Homo sapiens: one gene and its partner. The protein of the gene in region 1 interacts with the protein of each later gene in a pairwise test. Each region holds a gene or a part of one and is shown in the gene's direction. Other genes may lie near its edges.

Region 1 (3,500 bases):
TGATATTGCCAACACCTTTCGTTTGATTGAGAAATTCAATAGGAATGTGGTTTTCATTATATATACAGTCCGCATATGTATGTATGTATGTGTGTGTGTACATATATATAGTCTATACATATATACATATACATAATGTATTATATACTATACATATATATGTATATATGTATTATATATAGTCTGTATGTATGCATATGTGTACATGCAGACTGCATATGTGTATATAGTCTCTCTATATAAATACATAATATATATTATATATGCAGTCTGTATATGTATGTGTATATGGTCTGTATATGTATGTGTGTGTATATATATACAGTCTATACATATATACATATACATAATGTATTATATATTATAAATATACATGTATATATGTATTATATATACCGTCTGTATGTATATATGTATACACAGACTGATAAGTATGTATATATACAGTCTATATATGCACACATATACATAATATATAATCAGTCTGTATATGTACATATGTATGTCTGTGTGTATATATACACAGTCTATGTGTATATATGTATGTATACTGTCTATGTATGTGTGCATGATATGTGTGTATATATACATACATAGTCTGTGTATGTATATATATATGTATACCATCTTTGTATGTGTGATGTGTGTGTGTATATATATATACAGTCTGTATGTATGGTGTGTGTATATATGTACAGTCTGTGTATATGTGTATATGTATGTATACACTCTGTGTATATATGTATGTATGATGTGTGTGTATGTGTGTGTATATATATATATATAGCCTGTGTATGTATGTGTGTTTATATATACAGTCTGTATGTATGTATGGTGTGTGTATATATACACAGTCTGTATATGTATGTGTGTGTGTGTGTGTATATATATATATACAGTCTATGTGTGTATATATGTATATATATATACAGTCTATGTATGTATATATGTATATATGTAGGTATACAGTCTATATGTATGAACGTGTGTGTATATGTATATGTATGTATACAGTCTGTGTATGTATGGTGTGTGTATATATATATATATACACACACAGTCTGTATATGTATGTATGTGTGTGTGTATACATATACAGTCTGTGTATGTATGTATATATGTATGTATGTATACAGTCTATGGTGTGTGTGTGTATATATACACACAGTCTGTATATATGTGTGTGTGTACACATACACAGTCTGTGTATGTATGTACATATTATATATATTCACACCCACCGACACACACAGTCATGCCTTGCTTAATGACAGGGATACATTCTAATGGTCGTTAGGTGATTTGGTCATTACGTGACCATCTAGAATATCCTTACACAAACCTCTCTAGATAGTGTCGCATACTACCCACTCAGCTAGGCTATGTGGTGTCTCCTATTGCTCCCGGGCTGCAAACCTGTACAGCATGTGACTGCATGGACTACTGCAGGCAATTGCAACACGATGATAAGTATTTGTTCATCTAAACATATCTAGACATAGAAAAGGTACACTAAAAATATGCTATTATAATCTTATGGGACCACCATCATATTTTCAGTCCATCATTGATTAAAATGTCATGATGTGGTGCATGACTATATATGTAACATGAAAATTACATATGTAATATGAAAATTCGATTACTATATATGTAATATGAACATTAGATTACTACATATGTAATATGAAAATTAGATTCCTTCCTGGGCTTTGTGAGCTAGGAATGGGCTTTATAAACCAGTAGTTCTCTTTAGCCTTCTGGAAAAATGAATGAGGAATTAAAATGTAGTCACCTGAGGGTCCAGTTCCTTTGCTCTCAGCAAGAATACACAGACACGAGGCAGCCCTGCCCAGCGCCCAGCCTGAGCGACACCCCCACCGGGGGGGCACCCACGTGGCCGTGCCCAGCAGGCGGGCCATTCTACCCAGCTTTCTTCAACGTGTAATTTCATGTGGGCCCCTTGCCCAAAAATAAAGAGCAAGCCATTGTCAGGGTTCAGTTTAGTAGGCAGGATTTCCTGGCTCTTGAGCTGGCCGCGTTTCGTGGGGCCTGGCGGCCCAGCATGAGCTCCCCTTGCAGACACAGCTCTTTATTCCTGTGGCCTGAGCAGTGCTGCCATCTGACCAGGAGAGTCCTGAGGACGAGGGTCAGAGAGGATCTGAGCTGACTGCTTTCCACCCCCACCCGGCACAGACCTGAGACGGATAGAAAGGAGGCGGGCCTGTGACTGGGAAGAGGACAGAGAGAAGATGGAACACTACTTCCCTCTTCATATGCCCCGTCCTGTCCTCTGGACTCAGTAGGAGACCGTGGTTATCACTATGTGTAGGTTACACAACTTTCTAGTGTTAGCAGCTGGGAAGCTTCCAGCAGTCATGGGTAAATCCCACAATGTGGATAAATCCTCAGCTCTCTCCACCCTGCCCCCCAGAGCACATGTTCTTCCATGTCACTGGGAGAGTCCAGTCTCGGGCTGTGGCCAGTTGTAAGCCTTTCTGCCACTGATAGCTCTGAAGTTGGAGTTCAGCACGAGGTTTCTGCATTTGACTGAGACCCGATGCTTTTCCTTGTCCTCCCAGGTCAGTTCCTGAATCAGGATGCCAGACTCACAGAAGACCCTGCAGGGCCCAGCCAGAACCTCACTCACCCTCTGCTCCTTCAGGTGGGAGAGGGGCCTGAGGCCGTCCTAACAGTGAAAGGCCACCAAGTCCCAGTGGTCTGGAAGCAAAGGAAGATTTACAACGGGGAAGAGCAGATAGACTGCTGGTTTGCCAGGAACAATGCCGCCAAACTGATTGACGGGGAGTACAAGGATTACCTGGCATCCCATCCATTTGACACAGGGATGACACTTGGCCGGGGAATGTCCAGGGAGCTCTGAAGCTGGCAGCCTTAAAGATGCAAGTGCATGAAGGACAGTGATGTGGGGAGGCCGTGGGGCAGCTCTTTTCATGGCTTGTACACGCCTCAGCTCCTGGCAATTAGCTGGACTCCATGACCCACCCCTGGTGCAGCATAGATCCGACGTCTGTCTGGGCGAAGGGTAGGGGTGGGTAGGGGCGGGAAGCCTGAGTGCAAATGTCATTTCCCTCTACTGCCTCTTCCTGCCTCTCCCCACCCTGCCCACATCCACAGAGGGGAGAGAAGGGTCATAGCTAAATGCAACAAAGTCTGTATCTTGTCCCAACCTGCTTTTCTGTTCTGTTAGCATATCATAAAGTAAGCCTTTCTGGTGAAGGAAGGTTGCTATGAAACTTTTTTTCTTGGTGGAAATGGACAAGTTTAGGCACTCTGCTTTTTGCCTTACACTAATGCTTAGAAAGCTGTCTTTTCAGTGGTGTTGCAGCCCCCAGATGTGTGGCCAACCTCTGCTGCAAAGGAATCTCTTGCTGAGTCCAGGCCACCAATCAGGCAAATAGCCCATACATTTGATCGTTGTAAACCATGAAGTCTTTTCTTGCAAGACGTTTTTCTTCTGCTGTGGTATCTTGCCCTTA
Region 2 (3,500 bases), on another chromosome or scaffold:
CTTTCTTCCATTTTTAGATGGAAAAGATATTCTTTTTCTAGCCATTGTGTCAGAAAGTCTGTTGGATATAAAAAGATATAGTGTGAAAATTATATGTCTTATTTAGAATAAAGCCAATGAGAAAATTAGAATCAGAGCTTATGCTGTTTCAGTTTTTATTTCTTTGCATCTGTATATTTTCCTCTTCGGGTATCAAAGTTTAAGTCGATTTCTCTTTGTAAGATTCTTTCTGAGATAGCATAATTAAATATTCAAGATGTGTTGCTATTTAACATTAGAGGGAGGCAGTCAGTAGCTTTATTCATAAAGTTCCACCTGTTCTTTTCACTGGGCTGATTAGGAAAATCCTGATTTATTGGGTTGAAAATTTCTAAACCTAAAATGTCTTGAGATTTTTAGAATATTTTATTTATCAGATGAGTGGCCTACACAATGTTTAACAGTGTAATGTTTAAAATAGAAACTAACTGATTGGATCCCTTCATCTTTTCTGATAACTGAAAAACAAATTTGGCTGTCATATCTGTGACATCTAAATTTGCTTATAAGTTTTTTTGGCTTTTAAACAGAAGGAATCTCAAAAGAATGATAAAGATTTGAAGATATTAGAGAAAGAGGTAAGCAGTGCTTTAAACTTAGTGAAAAGTACACATGATAGAAAGAGAGTTACACAGATTTAAGAGATAAGGATTCTGTTGCAGTGTGAGGAGTCCTGCAGTGAGGCAAACATGCCATCCAGAACAGTGCCTACAGGAAAACAGTTCTTACAGTATTTCACAGATCTATCCGGGCTATGTTAATGTGGTATGCTGGCAACGCCGAGATTAAAGATAGCCCACTTAATGAAAAACTGATAACTGAAAAATCATTATGTCAGTTGATTACAATTATATATGTGGATCAAATATTTATATCTATCCATCGTTCACAGTCTTCCTGTATGCTAACTTATGTTAACACAACATAGCTAGAGGATTTCTTAGTGAGCATGCAATCCTAGCTGGTTAGACTGTGATGAAGTTAGGCTAACTCGATGCATTGCTCTGCACAATAGGTATAGGCCTTCCTCATGGGTGAAATAACATAGAGCTGTGCTGTTTGATATGGTAGCTACTCACCACATGTGATGATCTAAATTAAATAAGAACTCAATTCCTCAGTTGCAATAATCACATTTCAAGTGCTCAGTAGCCACATGTGATTGGCAGCTACCATACTGGACAGGGCATTTCCACCATGACAGAAATTTCTATTGAACAGTACTAACCTAAAGAACCCATTTACTTTCCTAGCAATGCTAAGCAGCTCACTGTGAACTTTGCTTCTCTGCAGTCTTTTTTTTCTGTTTCCATTGCTGACCAACTCTTTTCCTCATGGATATATTCTTTCAATATATTAAAATCTTTCATTTGATTACAGTCGAATGTTGGCTTTCAACCAAGAGTATGTCAGAGTAACTGTAAATGTCTGCTCAGTTGCTCTGATTCTTTTTTATGTATTCTAATAATGTTAGCTATCATTTTACTGAGGGTACATGTAGGGGTTGATACTTACAGGAATAATCACTGAGTCTCAGTGAGATAGCTGGTAAGTGAGTGGTAGAGCCAGGATTAGAACTAATAATTTACACCAGTGACTTCATTGGGTATAGAATTTTAGGGTGGCAGGTTCCCCCCCATTATATTAAAAATATCATTTCATTGTCTTTTGGCTTCCACATTTTCTGTTGACAAATATTGGTTTGGGTTTTTTTTTGTTTTTTGTTTTTTTAATCTGGTAATAGCAGCAAGAATGATGGCTTGCCAATGCCTAGTACATTCTCCTCAGAAGCCCAGCTCTGCCTTCTTGAAATAAAAAACATTTAGCATTTTAAGCTAATTTGAATTTGTGTAATTGAAGCTAGAGAAAATAACTATTATAGGTGGAAATACCTTAAAAGTGAATAAATAGCGGCCGGGTGTGGTGGCTTACACCTGTAATCCTAGCACTTTGGGAGGCTGAGGCGGGTGGATCACGAGGTCAGGAGATCGAGACCATCCTGGCTAATATGGTGAAACCCCGTCTCTATTAAAAATACAAAAAATTAGCCGGGTGTGGTGGCCCGTGCTGGTAGTCCCAGCTATTCGGGAGGCTGAGGCAGGAGAATCGCTTGAACCCAGGAGGCGGAGCTTGCAGTGAGCCGAGATCGTGCCACTGCACTCCAGCCTGGGCAACAGAGCACAGAGCAAGACTCCATCTCAAAAAAAAAAAAAAAAAAGTGAATAGATAGCTTAATTGTACTTGGAACTTATGGCAACTAAAGTTCTTATGTTCTTAAAATGCATTAAGACTTTTAAGATGTATCATAGGTAAATATGATTATTCAAATAGCTAGTAACATTAGAATATCTACAAGCATAATGTCAAAATCAGAGATTTTTCCAGAAACTTTAGGGGTGATTATTGGTAGCATCTCCTTATGTTGGCATTCTATCAGTGAATCATTTATTATCACCTTGTTTTTGTCCAGATTCGTGTTCTTCTACAGGAACGTGGTGCCCAGGACAGGCGGATCCAGGATCTGGAAACTGAGTTGGAAAAGATGGAAGCAAGGCTAAATGCTGCACTAAGGGAAAAAACATCTCTCTCTGCAAATAATGCTACACTGGAAAAACAACTTATTGAATTGACCAGGACTAATGAACTACTAAAATCTAAGGTATCTGAGCCTCATGATAATATTTACAATTGAATAAATATAAACACGTTTTTTAGGGCCGGGCACGGTGGCTCACGCCTGTGTTCCCAGCATTTTGGGAGGCCAAGGCAGGCGGATCACCTGAGGTCGGGAGTTCGAGACCAGCCTGACCAACATGGAGAAACCCTGTCTCTACTAAAAATACAAAAATTAGCTAGGCCTATTGGCGGGCGCCTGTAATCTCAGCTACTCGGGAGGCTGAGGCAGAAGAATCACTTGAACCCAGGAGGTGGAGGTTGCAGTGAGCTGACATGGCGCCATTGCACTTCAGCCTAGGCAAGAGAGTGCGACTCCATCTCAAAAAACAAAACAAAACAAAACAACATACACCAGGCGATTCAGATTCATTTTGTTAAGCAAACATGTTTCAAGAAATCCTTTCTCAGGGACTTGCTTTAGAGTCTTGCAATGGACTTTCCAGCATATAGAGGTAAGTGACCACCCAAACAACCTTTCAAAAATGAACCAACAGGCCAGCCACAGTGGCTCACACCTGTAATTCCAGCGCTTTGGGAAGCTGAGACGGATGGATCACTTGAGGTCAGGATTTTGAGACTAGCCTAGCCTAACATGGCGAAACCCCATCTTTACTAAAAATACAAAAATTAGTCAGGTATGGTGGCGTACACCCGTAATTCCAGCTACTCAGGAGGCTGAGGCATGAGAATAGCTTGAACTCGGGAGGCTGAGGCATGAGAATAGCTTGAACTCGGGAGGTGGAAGTTGCAGTGAGCAACACGGCACTCCAGCCTGGGTGACAGAG

What was found. The genes of interacting proteins can lie anywhere in the genome.
Region 2: the proteins of ITIH5 (region 1) and HMMR interact in a two-hybrid assay, tested with the Homo sapiens proteins (one large-scale study listed by BioGRID and IntAct).

The regions. Positions count from the first base shown.
Region 1 is NC_000010.11:7,562,467-7,565,966, reverse strand, and holds part of ITIH5 (inter-alpha-trypsin inhibitor heavy chain H5 isoform 1 precursor), read left to right. Parts: intron 1-2,582; coding exon 2,583-2,884; 3' UTR 2,885-3,500. UniProt on the Homo sapiens protein: May act as a tumor suppressor.
Region 2 is NC_000005.10:163,467,132-163,470,631, forward strand, and holds part of HMMR (hyaluronan mediated motility receptor), read left to right. Parts: intron 1-569; coding exon 570-617; intron 618-2,509; coding exon 2,510-2,698; intron 2,699-3,500. UniProt on the Homo sapiens protein: Receptor for hyaluronic acid (HA). Involved in cell motility. When hyaluronan binds to HMMR, the phosphorylation of a number of proteins, including PTK2/FAK1 occurs.